2 separate regions of the Homo sapiens genome follow, and region 1 is linked to region 2. The links come from fine-mapping of genetic effects on gene expression. A gene starts in region 2. The other region holds a variant in brackets. All regions are shown on one strand. Distances are from middle to middle. Region 1 overlaps YJU2 (YJU2 splicing factor homolog). Region 2 holds the start of YJU2 (YJU2 splicing factor homolog).

Region 1 (8,988 bases), 24 kb after region 2:
TTAATAAAGAGACGGGGTTTCACCATGTTGACCAGGCTGGTCTCGAACTCTTGACCTCAAGTGGTCCACCCGCCTCGGCCTCCCAAAGTGTTGGGATTACAGGTGTGTGCCTCTGTGCCTGGCCATCTGTGCCTTTTGACTTCTTTTCCTCATTTTGACATCAGCCCAGAGCTACGACATTTTTTTTTTTTTTTTTCGAGACGGCGTCTCGCCCTGTCACCCAGGCTGGAGTGCAGTGGCACGATCTCGGCTCACTGCAACCTCTGCCTCCCAGGTTCAAGCGATTCTCCTGCCTCAGTCTCCCGAGTAGCTGGGATTACAGGCGTGTGCCACCAAGCCTGGCTAATTTCTTGTATTTATAGTAGAGACGGGCTTTCACCGTGTTAGCCAGGATGGTCTCTATCTGACCTCGTGATCCACCTGCCTTGGCCTCCCAAAGTGCCGGGATTAGAAGCATGAGCCACTGCGCCCGGCCCAGAGCCACAACTTTAAGGAGGCCTCTCCACCACCTTAGCAGTGGCCGCCCCTCACACCGTCAGCTTGGCACTCAAGGTCTCTGCCCATTCTCCATCCCACCTAGCCTGCCCTGGCACTTCCTGAATCACACTGTGGCTTCTCATCACGCCTTTACCCATGCCATTCCCCTTACCTGGGATGCCCCCTTTGCCAAGCACTCGCTTGGTGAACTCCTACTCGCCCTTCAATACCCAATGCAAGACGCCCTTCCTCTGAGAAGCTCATCCTCACAATTCAAGCTCACGCACCCTGGCTTCTCTCTCACCCAGATGGATGTTATCCTGGGTATTGGTCTCCTTGTCCCTCTCCCTCCCCACACGGTGAGCTCCGTGAGGGCAGAGCACCCATTGGGACTTCCTTAACCCAGTGGTTACCACTTCCTCTATTTAAACATAAAACAGATTGAAGAGGCTAGATGCAGTGGCTCACGCCTGTCATCCCAGCTCTTTGGGACGCTGAGACGGGAGGATCGCTTGAGCCAGGAGTTTGAGACCAGCCTGGGCAACATAGCGAGATCCCGTCTCTACAAAAATTAAAAATGTTAGCCTGCCATGGTGGCGTGCACCTGCAGGAGGCTGAGGCAGGAGAATCGCTTGAGCCCAGGAGTTCGAGGCTGCAGTGAGCTATGATTGCACCACTGCACTCCAGCCTGGGCAATAGAGTGAGACCTTCCCCCCAAAAAAATTTTTTTAATAATATAGATTAAAGGGTCCCTTCTGTTGCAGTTAAGGAGCTGGAGGCCTTTTCTACCTGCCCCTAACTCTTTCTCAAGGCGGCTTCCTCCATTTTCACTCGTTCTCTCAAGTACATTGAGCACCTCCTTGTGCCAGGAACTGTTTGTGGCACCGCAGAGCCAGCAGTGGGGAAGACAGGAGCTCACGGCAGAGTTGGGGAGAGAGTTATAACAGCCAGCAGAGGGCACTGTGAGCGTGGACATGCAGCCTGCATGTGAGCTTGAACCATGATGGGCTTCTCAGAGGAGGGGTGTCTTGTGTTGGGTATTGAAGGGTGAGTAGGAGTTCACCAAGCGAGTGCATGGAAAAGGGGGCATCCCTGGTGAAGGGAATAGCATGGGTAAAGGCGTGGAGATGAGAAGCCATGGTGTGACTCAGGAAGTGCCAGACCAGGCTATGTGGGATGGAGAATGGGCAGAGGCCTTGAGTGCCAAGCCTAGGGCAGTGGGGAGCCATAGAGGAGTTTAGAGCAGAGGAGGAATGTGGTCAGTGCAGCAGTGGAAGAGTGGGCATGGGGCAGTGAGCAGGGGTTGTGGCGAGGGGCCAGACTGGGCCCTGGATCCGGGCCAGACCCCCACATGTGTCCCCATCACCTGCAGGCCCCAAAGCCCAAGAGGAAGGTGGAGGTCTGGGAGCAGAGCGTTGGCAGCCTGGGCAGCCGGCCCCCGCTGTCGAGGCTGGTCGTGGTGAAGAAGGCAAAGGCCGACCCGGACTGCAGCAACGGGCAGCCTCAGGCGGCCCCCACCCCAGGTAAGGTCACAGAGTTCCCAGAGCCGGGCGCGGTTTCTATAGTGGCCTGTAGGTGGCAGCAGCTCCCTTTGCAGTTACAGAGACTTCATGGGGTGGGTGGGGGCGGCCTGCGACCCCCACAGGACCAATTAGTGGAGTGAGCAGAGAAGGCAGGCGGCTTCTTTTTTTCTTTTTTCTTTTTTCTTTTTTTTTTTTTGAGACAGAGTCTTGCTCTGTTGCCCAGGCTGGAGTGCAGTGGTGCCATCTCGGCTCACCGCAACCTCCGCCTCCCTGGTTTGAGCAGTTCTCTGCCTCAGCCTCCCAAGTAGCTGGGACTACAGCACCACGCCCGGCTAAATTTTTGTATTATTAGTAGAGGTGGGATTTCTCCATGTTGGTCAGGCTGGTCTGGAACTCCCGACCTCAGGTGATCCACTCACCTCGGCCTCCCAAAATGCTGGGATTACAGGCATGAGCCACCGCGCCCGGCCTGTTTTTGTCTTTTAGTTGCCTTAGTATGATGTTTCCTAAGGCGATTAAGTCCACAGTGACTGGACTGTGAACTTTGCGCCATTTCCATTCTTGGCAGCGCACGTTGCCTGCCTGGGCAAGGTTTGCATTGGCCATTGTTCAGAAGCGGAGCTGTTGAGTCCCGGGTGTGCAGATGTAAATCTGCAATGGGTCCCATCAGGTGCCATCCAGAAAGGCCAGGCCATTCACATGCTGTCACCTCTGGACCTTGCAAACCTGCAGAGGTGGCCGGCCCCGTGCCTTGTCCCTGGCCTGTCTGCTGTGGAGCTGAGATGAGCTAACTCTCGCTCTCCCACCAGGAGCCCCGCAGAACAGGAAGGAGGCCAACCCTACACCCCTGACGCCTGGCGCGTCCTCCCTGAGCCAACTGGGTGCATACCTGGACAGTGACGACAGCAACGGCAGCAACTGAGCCCTCCCAGGACCCCCTCACGGGGTCAAAGTCACACGTCCAGCTTCAGCCACATTGAGGCCAGCATTGCTGGTGGTCAGGGCAGGAGGCCTTGGCGTGACTGGAGGCCGGACAGACAAGCGCCAGCGTGCTCCAACACATAGGGCCACCAGGGGCCTCAGCCCCAGGAGGTCCCTTCTCTGTGCCCTCACCAGCCTCTCAACACCTCGGGGACCCCTGCTGCTCCTGCCCCCACCTGTCACTGTGCTTAGGGCTGCAACATCCCTGGAGCAGCTTCCAACACTACTTCAGGGTGGCAGTGTTTGGGGCACTGGGCGAGCCTGCCGGCCTCTAGATGGCCTCATCTCTTCCTTCCACAAACTGTCTAGAACCAATAAAAGGAAACCTGCCAACCGCCTGGGCCCCTTCTCTCTCCCAGAGTCTGATGAGGAGGTCCCAGGACCTCCTCTGTTAGCACAATTCGAGGGTCATTCCACAGAGGTTTGTTTGTGTCTTGAGACAGGATCTCACTCTGTTGCCCAGGCTGGAGTGCGGTAGCGTATTCTTGACTCACTGCAGCCTTGAACTTCCGAGCTCAGGTGATCCTCCCACCTCAGCCTCGCGAGTCGCTGAGACCTCAGGTGGATGCCACCATTCCTGGCTAACTTTTTGTATATTTAGTAGAGACTGGGTTTCATCATGTTGCCCAGGCTGATCTTGAACTCATGGGCTCAAGTGATCCTCCTGCCTCAGCCTCACAAAGTGCTGGGGTCACAGGCATAAGCCACTGTAACAGGCATGAGCCCAGATATTTATATTTAGTTGTCGCCTGAGTGTGCATCTGGGCTCTTTTTGTTTTCTCTTCTTTTTTTTTTTCTTTCTTTACCTTTTTTTTTTTTTTTTTTTTTTGGAGACGACGTCTCGCTCTTGTCCCCCAGGCTGGAGTGCGATGGCGCGATCTTGGCTCACTGCAACCTCCGCCTCCCGGGTTCAAGCGATTCTCCTGCCTCAGCCTCCAGAGTAGCTGGGATTACAGGCGCCCGCCACCACGCCTGGCTTAATTTTTGTATTTTTAGTAGAGACAGGGTTTCACCATGTTGGCCAGGCTGGTCTTGAACTCCTGACCTCAGGTGATCTGCCTGCCTCAGCCTCCCAAAGTGCTAAGATTACAGGCCTGAGCCATTGTGCCCTGCCTGTACAATCTTTTTGTTTGTTTGTTTGAGACAGAGTCTCCCTCTGTTGCCCAGGCTAGAGTGCAGTGGTGTGATCTTGGCTCACTGCAACCTCCACCTCCCAGGTTCAAGCAATTCTCTGCCTCAGCCTCCCCAGCAGCTGGGATTACAGGTGCCTGCCACCACGCCCAGCTAATTTTTGTGTTTTTAGTAGAGACGGGTCTCACCATCTTGGCCAGGCTGGTCTTGAACTCCTGACCTCAGGTGATCTGACTGCCTCAGCCTCCCAAAGTGCAGGGATTACAGGCGTGAGACACTGCACCAGCCTGGAATCTTTTAAAGTGAACAATATGAACCTTCTTTGAGTAGGCAGTTCCATTTCTGGCTGTCTGTTCTAAGAGGTATTTGCCCACATTCATAAGGAAACACCCACGAGGAGGTTTGTCGTGACACTGTGTTTAGCAGCAACATTATGGGGAACGAACCCAATGTCCCCAGTAGGTGAAGGCTGAACTCTGGCATAAATAATGGAATTCCAGCCGGGTGTGGTGGCTCAGGCCTGGAATCCCAGCTACTTGGGAGGCTGAGGTGGGAGGATCACTTGAGCCCGGGAGATTGAGGCTGCAGTGAGGTGTAACTGTACCACTGCACTCCAGCCTTGGTGAGAGACCAAGATCCTGCCTGAAAAAGGGGGAGGGGGGTGGGGAGCTAGGCCCAGGACAGGAACTGTGGCATGTTCCTGTAATCCCAGGACTTTGGGGGGCTGAGGCAGGAGGGTTGGTTGAAGACAGGAGGTCGAGTCCAGACTGGGCAACATGGCCAGACCGTTTCTCAATTTGTCTTTTTTTAAAGAAAGGTGGGGCACGGTGGCTCACGCATGTAATCCCAGCACTTTGGGAGGCCACGGCGGGCAGATCACCTGAGGTCAGGAGTTCAAGACCAGCCTGGCCAACATGGTGAGACTCCCACCACCCCCACTAAAAATAAAAAAATTAGTCAGATGTGGTGGCGGGCACCTGTAATCCCAGCTAATTGGTAGGCTGAGGCAGGAGGATCACTTGAACCTGGAAGGTGGAGGTTGCAGTGAGCTGAGATCATGCCACTGCACTCCAGCCTGGGCAACAGAGTGAGATTCCATCTCAAAAAATAATTAATTAAAAAAAAAGATGCTACAATTTGCCTTCAA[A/G]GGGGCTGCGCTCTACATACTCAACAAGGATGGGACTCACTGGCTTTATGAGTAGAAAGCTCTGGCTGGGAAGTTCCCCTCCTCGGCGGGGGCAGCAGAAGGAGTTGGCAGAGGGAAGGAAGGAACCTGTGTTTATCAAATGTTCCCTGAGCATTTGGCAGAAACAAAGTTGAACTCCCACTTCCAACACCCGTTCTTATTTTAATTTTAATTTTTTTTTTTTTTGAGACAGCATCTCACTCTATCACCCCCGCTGGAGTGCAGTGGCAGGATCTCGGCTCACTGCAACCTCCGCCTCCCGGGTTCAAGCGATTCTCCTGCCTCAGCCTCCAGAGTAGCTGGGATGACAGGCACGCGCCACCCTGCCTGGCTTAATTTTTGTATTTTTAGTAGAGATGGGGTTTTGCCATGTTGCCAGGCTGGTCTCGAACTCCTGACCTCAAGTGATTCGCCCGCCTCAGCTCCCAAACTGCTGGGATTACAGGCGTGAGCTACCGCACCCGGCCCCCAAAAAACTTTTATGTATTATATATTTTTACAATAACATATAAATAATGTATACCGAAGGTGGTGAAAATAAAGCAGGTGAGTGTGTTCTAAGGAGATGCAGAGGGGATGCCTTGGGAACGTGTTTATTGCCCATCTCTCCCTCTGTTTGTTTTCTGGTGCTGCATAACAAATTATACCAAAACTGAACAACTTAAAAACAACATAGAGCTGGGTGTGGTTTCATTGGGTCTCCCGCTTTAAGGTTTAGCAAGAATGCAATCAAGACAGAGGCCAGGCTGGGCGCAGTGGCTCATGGCTGTAATCCCACCACTTTCACAGGCCGAGGCGGGCGGATCACTTGAGGTCATGAGTTCAAGACCAGCCTGGCCAACATGGCAAAACCCTGTCACTACAAAAAAGTACAAAAATTAGTTGGGCATGGTGGTACATGCCTGTAATTCCAGCTACTTGGGAGGCTGAGACAGGAGAATCACTTGAACCCAGGAGGCAGAGGTTGCAGTGAGCCAAGATTGCACCACTGCACTCCAGCCAGGGGGACAGAGCGAGACTCCCGTCTCAAAGAAAAAAAAAAAAAAAAGACACAGGCCCAGGCTGGGGTGTCATCTGAAGGCTCAACTGGGGAAGGACCTGCTGCCAAACCTTTGTGGTTGTTGACAGAATTCAGTCCCTCATGGCTGTTGGCCAGAAAACACTCTCAGTTTCTTACCTACACAGACCTTGTCTGCAGCTTGTGTCTTTGTCCATTTGCTGCTGCTTTCACAGAACACCACAGACTGGGTAAATTATAAACAGTAGAAGTTTATTCGGGCCGGGCGCAGCGGTTCACACCTGTAATCCCAGCACTTTCAGAGGCTGAGGTAGGTGTATCACCTGAGGTCAGGAGTTTGAGACCAGCCTGCCCAACATGGTGAAACTCTGTCTCTACTAAAAATACAAAAATTAGCCGGGCATGGGGCAGGTGCCTGTAATCCCAGCTACTCCAGAGGCCGAGGCAGGAGAATAACTTGAACCCGGGAGGCAGAGGTTGCAGTGAGCCAAGATTATGCCATTGCACTCCATCCAGCTTGGACAACAGAGTGAGACTCCATCTCAAAAAAATTGGTGCACCCCAGCACCCCAAAACCAGCTGGCACATCGTGGGTGCTCGCAAATGGGTTGAGGGGGCATCACCCCATTCCCCAATGAGGAAACAGGCTCAGGGAGCCCCAGGTTTCACCTCCTCCCCTCTCACACCCCACTCTTTCATACACCACTGGAATTTTATTTTTATTTCTTTTTTTTTTCCCCTGAGAAGCTTTGTTCTCTCACCCTGTGTCCTGGGGGCAATTCTGCTCTCAGCCCCCAGTTCTCTCCTGGGGGTTCCCAGGACTGAGGGAGTAGAGGGGCAGGCACAGCCATGCATCGGGCTCTGTCCCTCCTGACCAGCGGGGGACCCCTCCCTGCCCTGCCCCACCTCTCAGGGCCCCCTACCCTCACCCTCTGAAGCCTGCCCTTCCCCTATCCCTGCCGACAGTACCCGTTCCCCACCAGCCCGCGTCTGTCATCCTGTCTTCGGGAGCTGTCAGCCTTCATCTGAGATCTCCATCAACTCCTCCGGGGCTGCCTGGCTGCTGGAGCACATCAGAGGGATGGGGAGGAGGGGCGATGGGGGCCCCTTCTGCTGGAGCCCACTGCCGCCCCAGCCTGGGCTTACAGGAGAAGAGGGGCCATGCCATTTCCCCAGCTTTTGCCAGTTCCAGTGTGAACTTGGGGCTCCCTGAGCCTGTTTCCTTATCTGGGAATGGGGTGACACCACCCACTCAGTCCACAAACACCCCCCGGGCACACGCTCTGTTGCTGCCCCATTTACAGGTAAGGGAGACTCCTCGACCTCCAGGGTGAGGGAGGGACAGGGCCTGGGTATGAAGCTCCAGGCTCCGAGGCTACGCCTTTGGTCACCCACCCCACTGCAACCCCAAGAGCTGGGCTGTGCCTGCGTGTCAGACTGGAGCCCTGGAAGGGCTGGATCATGCCTCCCCCATCAGGTAGGGGCCCCTAGAAGGAAGGCTCGCTTCTCCTCCAGCAGACTGGGACCTTGTAAGTTAGTTAGGGCCATGCCTCCTGTGTTGGACTGGGCCCTTGAAATTTACACCATACCTCCCCCATCAGACTGGGGACGCTTGAAGTTTGGACTATGCCTCCCTCATCAGACTGGGGACTCTTGAAGGCAGGCCTATGTCTCCTCCATTACTCTGGGACCCTGGAAGTCAAGACTATGTCTCCTGCATTAGACAGGGGACCGTTGAAGGTTGAACCTGCCTCCCCCATCAGACTGAAGATAGGTTCACGTCTCCTTCCTCAGAGTGGGAACCCCTCAAGGTAGGGCCATATCTCTCCCATCAAATGGAAGCTCCTGAAGTCAGAGCCGCAACTCTTCCATCAGACTGGGGGCTTCTGTGGACAAGGCCATGCCTCTGCCATCAGACCGTGAGTTAAGAAAGGCAGAGCTGGCCAGGTGCAGTGGCTCACGCCTGTAATCCCAGCACTTTGGGAGGCCGAGGCGGGCGGATCACGAGATCAGGAGATCGAGACCATCCTGGCTAACACAATGAAGCCAAGATTGCGCCACTGCACTCCAGCTTGGACGACAGAGCGAAACTCTGTCTCAAAAAAAAAAAAAAAAAAAAGACAGAGCTGGCTAGGCACAGTGGCTCATGCCTGTAATCCCAGCACTTTGGGAGGCCAAGGCGGGCGGATCACAAGGTCAGGAGTTCAACACCAGCCTGGCCAACATGGTGAAACCCCGTCTCTACTAAAAGTACAAAACTTAGCCAGGCATGGTGGCATGCACCTGTAATCCCAGCTACTCCAGAGACTGAGGCAGGAGAATCGCTTGAAACAGGAAGCGGGAGGTTGCAGTGAGCCAAGGTCATGCCACTGCACTCCAGCCTGGGCAACAAGAGTGAAACTCCATCTCAAAAAAAAAAAAGGCAGAGCTGGCCAGGCGCAGTGGCTCACGCCTGTCATCCCAGCACTTTGGGAGGCCAAGGCTGGCATATCACCGGAGGTCAGGAGTTCAAGACCAGCCTGGCCAATGTGGTGAAATCCTGTCTCTACTAAAAATAAAAAATTAGCTAAGTGCAGTGGCACACACCTGTAGTCCCAGCTACTTGGGAGGCTAAGGCAGGAGAATCGCTTGAACCCAGGAGGCGGAAGTTGCAGTGGGCCAAGATTGTGCCA
Region 2 (8,988 bases):
AGGATTGCCAGGGAGGAATGCTTTATCCTGCCGCTGCAGTCAATGAGAAGGGGTGGTAAAGTCTCATATGTCTCCCTGACCAACTAAAATTGGGGAGTTTATATAGCTGGGGAATGGGAGAAAACAAATTCAGGGAGGGTGTTAAGGAAGTAATCTTGATGGATGATGGGGTCTGGCCTCTCATTGTCTGGATGTGATGATCTGATGAGTTTCAGTTCCTTGCCTGATGGTCAGTTTCCTGAGGAAGGAACTGAGATGAGACAAATGTAAGTTTCAAGTTTTAAGACTAGGGAGGATCCATTTCTGTGTTTATTCAAATAATCATAAGTATTCGTTTTATGGAACAATTGGACCAGTTTCAGAATGTTTCCATGAGCTGAGCAGACAACATTAGGGGTTCTTTTTCTTTCTTTTTTAAAGTCTGTTAAACCTTCCATTTTTTTTTTTTCCCGAGACAGAGTCTCTCTCTGTCACCCAGGCTGGGGGGCAGTGGCGTGGTCTTGGCTGACTGTAACCTCCGCCTCCTGGATTCAAATGATTCTCTTGCCTCTGCCTCCCAAGTAGCTGGGACTACAGGTGCCCATCATCACACCCGGCTAATTTTTGTATTTTTAGTAGAGATGGGGTTTCCCCATGTTGGCCAGGCTGGTCTTGAACTCCTGACCTCATGATCAACCCGCCTCAGCCTCCCAAAGTGCTGGGATTACAGGAATGAGGCACCATGCCCGGCCAAACCTTCCACTTTTGCAAAGCAGGTTTTATTTATTTATTTTGAGACGGAGTTTCACTCTTGTTGCCCAGGCTGGAGTGCAGTGGTGATCTCAGCTCACTGAAAAAGAGGTTGGTTTTATAGACAGAAAAAGGCTGAGTAAAGCAGAAATAGAAAACAAAAAGTGGATTGGTCTTTTCAAAGTTACTTTTCTTGTCAAGTTTAGAGCAAAGGAGACTATCGTGCTGGCTAAAACAGGCCTGTTCAGGGATTTTTTTTTTTTTTTTTTTTTGAGACAGTCTCGCTCTGTCACCCAGGCTGGAGTGTAGTGGCACAATCTTGGCTCACTGCAGCCTCCACCTCCCGGGTTCAAGCGATTCTCCTGCCTCAGCCTCCCAAGTAGCTGGGACTACAGGCGTGTGCCACCCTGCCCAGCTAATCTTTGTATTTTTAGTAGAGACAGGGTTTCACCATGTTGGCCAGGATGGTCTCAATCTCCTGACCTCGTTATCCACCCGCCTCCCAAAGTGCAGGGATTACAGGCATGAGCCACAGTGCCTGGCCTTTTTTTTTTTTTTTTTGAGACAGAATCTGGTTCTGTTGCCTAGGCTGGAGTGCAGTGGCATGATCTGGGCTCACTGCAATCTCCGCCTCCCAGGTTCAAGCAATTCTCGTGAGTCAGCCTCCCAAGTAGCTGGGATTACAGGCACCCACCACCGCACCCCGCTAATTTTTTGTATTTTAGTGGAAACGGGGTTTCGCCATGTTGGCCAGGCTGGTCTTGAACTCCCGAGCTCAGGTGATCTGCCTGCCTCTGTTCATGGATTTGACTATTCCCTCTCTTTCTCTCTCTCCCTCTCTCTCTCTCTCTCCCCACTTCCTTCCAGTTCTCGATTTCTTGGAAAACCAGAAAAACAACTTAGTTTCAGCTTGGTGTAAAACTTCCGCATGAGGGACTTCATTTTGGTTTAGTCTTTTGGGCCTAGTGCAGGAGCTCAGTCCAAACCCATGGCTTCCTGTAAACTTTATTTAACACCATTCCTTGTCCCATATTATTGTCTTCCTGGTGCCAGGAAAAGGGGTCCCTAGCTGGGTGTGGTGGCTCACACCTGTAATCCCAGCACTTTGGGAGGCTGAGGTGGGTGGATCACCTCTTGAACACCTCAGGAGTTCAAGACCAGCCTGACCAACATGGAGAAACCCCGTCTCTACTAAAAATACAAAATTAGCCGGACGTGGTGGCACATGCTTTTAATCCCAGCTACTTGGGAGGCTGAGGTAGGAGAATAGCTTGAACCTGGGAGACGGAGGTTGCGGTGAGCCGAGATTGTACCATTGCACTCCAGCCCGGGCAACAAGAGCAAAACTCCTCAAAAAAAAAAAAAAAAAAAAAAAAAAAGGAAGGCTACTCAGTTACAAAGTAGGGCGTCCTCAGAAAACAAGAGGAGGAACGCCTTGTCTTTGTTTTAAGGTTTTTATTTTTATTTTATTTATTGATTTATTTTTGAGATGGAGTCTTGCTCTGTCACCCAGGTACAATGGCACGATCTTGGCACGATCTTGGCTCACTGCAACCTCCACCTGCCAGGTTCAAGCGATTCTCCTGCTTCAGTCTCCTGAGTAGTTGGGATTCAGGCATGTACCACTGCGCCCAGCTAATTTTTATATTTTTAGTAGAGACGAGGTTTTACCGTGTTGGCCAGGCTGGCCTTGAACTCCTGAGCTCAAGTGATCCTCCCACCTCGGCCTCCCAAAGTGTTGGGATTACAGGTGTGAGCCACCATGTACAACCGGTTTTTTCTTATATAGGGGTCTTATCTGTGTGAAAGCTATGTCCACGTGTAGGTGGGCTGACCGCGTGACAAAACGTAGTACTTTGTCGACTTAAAGAAAGTTATCCTGGCTGGGTGCAGTGGCTCACACCTGTAATTGTAACACTTTGGTAGGCCGAGGCCGGCAGATCACTTCAGCCCAGGATTTCCAGACCAGCTTGGGCAACATGGCGAAACCCTGTCTCTACAAAAACTGCCAAATATTAGCCAGGTGTGGTGGTACCTATAGTTCCAGCTAACTCGGAAGGCTGAGGTGGGGGATCGCCTGAGCCGGGAAGTGGAGGCCACAGAGAGCCATGATTGCGTTACTGCACTCCAGCCTAGGTGACAGAGCGAGACCCTGTCTCAAAAAGTATACATACATATCCTTGCCATTTTAGTGCCTAAGTACATTACACCATGACTATAACCATATTTTCTTTTTTTTTTTTTGAGATGGAGTTTCACTCTTGTCACCCAGGCTGGAGTGCAATGGCGCCATATCGACTCACCGCAACCTCTGCCTCCCAGGTTCAAGTGATTCTCCTGCCTCAGCCTCCCAAGCAGCTGGGATTACAGGCATGCACCACCATGCCCGGCTAATTTTGTATTTTTAGTAGAGACAAGATTTCTTCATGTTGGTCTGGTTGGTCTTGAACTCTCGACCTGCACCACCGCACCTGGCTAATTTTGCATTTTTAGTAGAGACGGGGTTTCTCCGTGTTGGTCTGATTGGTCTTGAACTCCTGACCTCAGGTGATTCGCCCACGTCGGCCTCCCAAAGTGCTGGGATTACAGGCGTAAGCCACCATGCCCGGTATCTTTTTCTTTTTTTTCTCTTTTTTTTTTTTTTTGAGATGGAGTCTCACTCTGTCGCCCAGGCCACAGGGCAGCGGCACAATCTCGATCTCAGTTCACTGCAACCTCAGCCTCCTGGGTTCATGCAATTCTCCTGCCTCAGCCTCCCAAGTAGCTGGGATTACAGGTTCCCGCCACCACGCCCGGCTAATTTTTGTATTTTTAGTAGAGATGGGGTTCCACCATGGTGGCCATGGTGACCAGGCTGGTCTCGAACTCCTGACCTCAGGTGATCCACCCTCCTTGGCCTCCCAAAGTGCTGGGATTACAGGCATGAGCCACCGCGCCTGGCGACTATAACGATCTTAAAAGCATACATTGCTATGCAATATCAGGACATCTGGACCTTCCATTGTTGTAGTAGTGTGTCCTCCTAGGCATTTGTAAGACGTTTTCTCAATTGTAAACATCTTATGACCCTGGCTCGTGACTGGCAGCGAATGTGCCTTGTTAATTTTAAGATGGAGTTGATTTTTGGCCAGGTGCAGTGGCTCATGCCTGTAATCCCAGCACTTTGGGAGGCAGAGGCGAGCAGATCACCTGAGGTCAGGAGTTCGAGACCTGCCTGGCCAAAATGGTGAAACCCCATCTCTACTAAAACTACAAAAATTAGGCAGGTGTGGTGGTGCGTGCCTGTAATCCCAGCTACTCGGGAGGTTGAGACAGGAGAATCACTTGAATCCTGAGGTGGAGGTTGCAGTGAGCCAAGATCGCACCACTGGAGGCAGAGGTTGCAGTGAGCCAAGATCGCACCACTGCCCGTCAGCCTGGGCAACAGAGCAAGACTCCTCAAAAGATAAATAAATAAACAAACAATTGCCACAGCAACATCAAGAAGTTACCCTATATGGTCTAAAAAAGGGAGGTATGAATAATCCACCCCTTGTTTAGCATATCATCAATAAATCACCATAAACATGGGCAACCACCAGCCCTTGGGGCTGCTTTGTCTGTGAAGTAGCCATTCTTTTATTCATCTACTTTCTAAATAAACTTGTTTTTGCTTTGCACTGTGGACTCGCCCTGAATTCCTTCTTGCACGAGATCCAAGAACCCTCTCCTGGGGTCTGGATCCGGACCCCTTTCCTGGAACAATCTGACACAGAGGAAACGTCCATGAAAGGTGGGGAGGAGGCTGGGGAAGGAGGCTGGGGAAGGAATGGGATGGGAAGTCCTCGTTAAGGGGAAGGCACAGGTGGGCAATGGAGGGACATTTGGGAGACACTGCGTATGTTTAGGAAGTTGGTTTGGAGCCTGATCTTTAAGTCAATGTCTGTGACTCAAGAGTCGTCCAGGGTCCTCTTAAGTCACCCTATGTGTGGCCCCAACCCCATGTGAGAGTTGCGGGCCCAGGAACGATGTGTGGATTCCCAGAGCCCAGAATACAAGGCAGGCGCATAATACATATTTGCTGAATAAAAGAATGAAGAACAAGAGGTCACGTTACAAAATTTTAACGAGCCGCTGCCCGCTTCTAGGGGGCGCAGCGCACTATACAAAATTCTCCAATTCCACATGGCTCCCGGAATCCTTATTTCGCGCTACTCAGGTTGCAACTCCGGAGGGAAGACGCTGGGACTTCCAGCTTGATAGGCGGGGATTGGAACCAATGAAAGAGGTCTGCTGTGTATGCTGCAGCCAATAATAGCGGCCGAAGGAAGTGACGTTTGCGGAAGTAAGGCTTCCGTCGGAAAAGCTCGATAATTACCCAGCCTAACCATTTCTCAGGTGCTTGCGAGGTGATCAGAAGGCAAAGATGTCGGAGCGAAAAGTATTAAACGTAAGTGTTGGGCGACTGGGGCTTTTCAATCGGAGCAGGACATCCCGGAACTCCGGGAGAGGGAGGAGCTTCCTGAGATCTCTTCTTTGGAACCCTTCTTTCCCAGCGGCCTTCCGCGAGATGGGGCTTCCCAGACTCCTCCCTAGACTCCTCCCCATCGCCTTCCGTCGGGGGGGTGGGCCTTCGCTAAGTCTCCCTTCTGGGCTGGGGTGTAGTTAGTCACCTGCGGGGCGTGGCTTGGGCTTTTACCCAATCACCACCAGATAGGGTTTTTTTTCTGGGGGCGGGGCTTCCTTAAATGCTGGCGGCCGTGTTTTGCCCTCTTCTTGAGGGGCGTGGCTCTGAGAAGCCCCGCCCCACTTGGGGACTGTAACCAATCGTGTACTTTGGGTGGGGTGGGGTGGGGTGGCGCGTGTGTGTGTGTGTGTGTGTGTGTGTGTGTGTGTGTGTGTGTGTGTGTGTGTGTGTGTGTGTGTGTGTGTGTGTGTGTGTGTGTGTGTGTGTGTGTGTGTGTGTGTGTGTGTGTGTTTTGTTTTTTTTACTGGGGTCTGGTCATGCAGATAACCTCTGCCTTACAGTGGCCAAGATTTTACTGGGGTCTGGTCATGCAGATAACCTCTGCCTGACAGTGGCCAAGATTCCAGACTCCCAGAAGAAAAGCAGAGGTTCAGTATAAACTATACTGTTGGCACACTTCTGTTTTTTGGTTTTTTGAGATGGAGTTTTGCGCTTGCTTCCCAGGCTGGAGTGCAGTGGCACGTTCTTGGCTCACTGCAGCTTCTGCCTCCTGGGTTCAAGCGATTCTCCTGCCTCAGCCTCCTGAGTAGCTGGGACTGCAGGCGCCCGCCACCATGCCTGGTTAATTTTTTTTGTATTTTAGTAGAGATGAGATTTCACCATGTTGCCCAGGGTGGTTTTGAACTCTTGATCTCAGGCATTCCACCCACCTCATACTCCCAAAGTGCTGGAATTACAGGCGTGAGCCACCGCGCCCGGCCCCACGCAGGTCTTTCTAGGAGAGCAGTCTCAGGCTTGCTGTAGGAACTCCTGGGAAACAGGAGCCCTGGGATACAAAGGGAGTGTGAGTATGGATTATGACAGATACCTCCACTGCACCACTGGAAAATAAAGCACTTTGTGTTTGGAGCACCTACTGGGTGCCAGACACTGCAAAGAGCACTTTATCCCCCTTGCCTCAAGGAATGCGTGCAAAGACTCTTGGAGACAGAGGACAGTGTGCGCATTTCACAGAGGAGTAAACTGAGCCCTGCAGGTTTCAGCTCCTCAGGATTCAGATCCAGGGAGATGACTCTGTAGGAAACGGATGTAGTATCGTGATTGGGAGGCTGAGCTAACAGAGTCCTGGTTTACCCTCTACAGAATTGCTGGGGAGTTGGGACTCCTCGGGGAACTCGGTCTCCTGCCTGAACAACAGAAGTGCTAAGCAAAGCTTAACCTCTACAAAGGGCAGGGCATGATGGCTCACGTGTGTAATACCAGCTCTTTGGGAGGCCAAGGCAGGTGGATCACCTGAGGTCAGGAGTTCGAGACTAGCCTGGCCAACATGGTGAAACCCCATCTCTACTAAAAATACAAAAATTAGCGGGGAGTGGTGGTGGGCGCCTGTAATCCCAGCTACTGTAGAGGCTGAGGCAGGAGAATCGCTTGAACCCAGGAGGCGGAGGTTGCAGTGAGCCAAGATCGCGCCACTGGACTCCAGCCTGGGCAACAAGAGCAAAACTCCGTCTCAGAACAAAAACAAAAACAAACCCTGGCTTTTTAGAGCTTCCCGTGTAGACAGCATTTCATGTGTATTGTCATGACTGGTATTTAGGAGAATTAAATGCGTCCTGTATAACTCCACTAGGAGAGAGTCAGGAAGCTTGTGCCTGGCCTCCCTCTGACTGTACTGAGTCCTGCGAGTCCTCCCTGCCTGTCGCGGAACCTGGGGTGGGCTTGGGGACCCCCGACACAGCTCCCCAGAGCCCCTTCCCTCTGCCATGTCCTGCCCCTGCTTCTGAAAATAACTCCCCCAACGTTTCCTTCCTCCCCTGCAGAAATACTACCCGCCGGACTTTGACCCATCAAAGATCCCCAAACTCAAGCTCCCCAAAGACCGGCAGTACGTGGTGCGGCTGATGGCCCCCTTCAACATGAGGTGAGCACCCCCTGCGTGACCCCACACACCAGTCATGGCTGAAGGACGCAGTGCCTGGCATCCACAGAGGTGACTCGTCCGGTGTTAAGACCAGATCACTGGTCTTAGACATTGTCCTGGCTCAGACATTGACCATTCCAACCCTCCTTCGCCTCACCACTTGGGATTAAGCTTTGGATCTTTTAGAGCCCTCCAGCCAGTGCCTGCCTTGAGATCATGGTGGTTAGTAAACGTGTGTGCAGAGAGGATAGGACGCCACAGAGATGCAGCCCCATAGATATATTTCAGCTCCTCCAACAGCCAAGCTCGTTCCTACCCCAGGGCCTTTGCACACACTGCTGCCCCTGCTTGGAACTCTCTCCCTCTACTTTCTTTCTTTCTTTTTTTTTTTTTGTTGAGACAGAGTCTTGCCGTGTTGCCCAGGCTGGAGTGCAGTGGCGTGATCTCAGCTCACTGCAACCTCCACCTCCTGGCTTCAAGCGATTCTCCTGCCTCAGCCTCCCAAGTAGCTGGGATTACAGGCGTGCACCACCACGCCCGGCTAATTTTTGTATTTTCAGTAGAGTTGGTGTTTTACCATGTTGGCCAAGCTGGTCTCGAACTCCTGACCTCAGGTGATCTGCCCTCCTTGGCCTCCCAAAGTGCTGGGATTGCAGGCGTGAGCTGCCGCACCTGGCCTTCTCCTTCTACTTACACATGGCAGGCTCCTCTTGTCTGCCATAGGTCATGGCTCCAATCTCACCCCTCCGGGAGGCCTCCATCATCCCCTCACGGTGCCCAGATCTTGCCTTTTGTAGCACTTCAGAATTACTGTATTTCACCAACTCTCAACCCCATACCTTTTCATGCTCTAGCATATCTGAAATCACGCACCTAACGAGGAAAGAGACATCTGGGTCAGTGAAATTCGGTTCATGCCCATGTGTTGTTGGCCTGTCTACTCCTCCCCCTCATTCATTCATTTATTCATTCAACACTCATTTATTGGGCACCTGCTGTGTGCCAGGGTCTGTGCCGAGCGCCAGGAACAAAGTCCCTGGCCTCATGGAGCCCACAGTCTAATGGGAAGTGGAGAATAGTGGTAGTCAGGCAGGTGCACGGGCCCCCGAAGTCAGGCAGGAGAGAGCCCCTGGGGCAGTGGCGCAGGAGGGAGGGCTATAGGTAGCTGGGGTACGGTGACATCAGGCAAAATACTGGTGGCGCTGAGGTCTGAGGATGAAGGGTGTCGCCGGCCATGAGACTGTAGGAGCAGAGGCCTTGAGCTGGGACTGAGCTGGGGGTGTTTGCAGGATCAGACAGGAGGCGGGCGTGCTGGGCTGGGGAGCAGAGCCCGGAGTAGGAGGGGAAGAGGGGGGTGGGGCAGCATTTTTCTGTGTGGCATCTTTCCTCCTGGAGGGTGGGGTGCCCCGTAAGCACAAAGATTGCTTCTGGGAGTGCATGACAGGCAGGCCTCACCTACTCAGGGGGCTTCCCAAGCAGGCGACCCTTGGACTGAGCCCCAGGAAGATATGAATGAGAACACGAAGTTCTCAGGTAGAGGAAATTTGGACACAGGGTGGGGCAGCCTGCCTCTTGAAGGAGGGAGCTCCCCGTTGCTGGAGGCAAGCAAGCAGTGATCTTGCAGGATGCCGCAGGGACAGCCTGCCAGTGGGAGCCAGCGTCCCAAGACAGC

Evidence for each region.
Region 1: its variant is fine-mapped to the expression of YJU2 in whole blood (TOPMed, PIP 0.98).

Annotation. Positions count from the first base shown.
Region 1 is chr19:4,265,775-4,274,762 of GRCh38, forward strand. It overlaps YJU2 (YJU2 splicing factor homolog), which reads left to right. Exons shown (of 8, transcript NM_018074.6): 7 at 1,850-2,000; 8 at 2,810-3,314. The coding sequence ends at 2,922. Among named protein-coding and RNA genes, the nearest start is that of SHD, 9.0 kb to the right of the region's middle. The variant A/G (reference allele first, on the strand shown) is at 5,260.
Region 2 is chr19:4,242,013-4,251,000 of GRCh38, forward strand. YJU2 (YJU2 splicing factor homolog) reads left to right here and starts at 5,068. Exons shown (of 8, transcript NM_018074.6): 1 at 5,068-5,158; 2 at 7,216-7,316. The coding sequence starts at 5,135. RefSeq lists a silencer at 86-286 and enhancers at 465-514, 665-764, 4,128-4,899, 4,658-4,797, 5,138-5,227.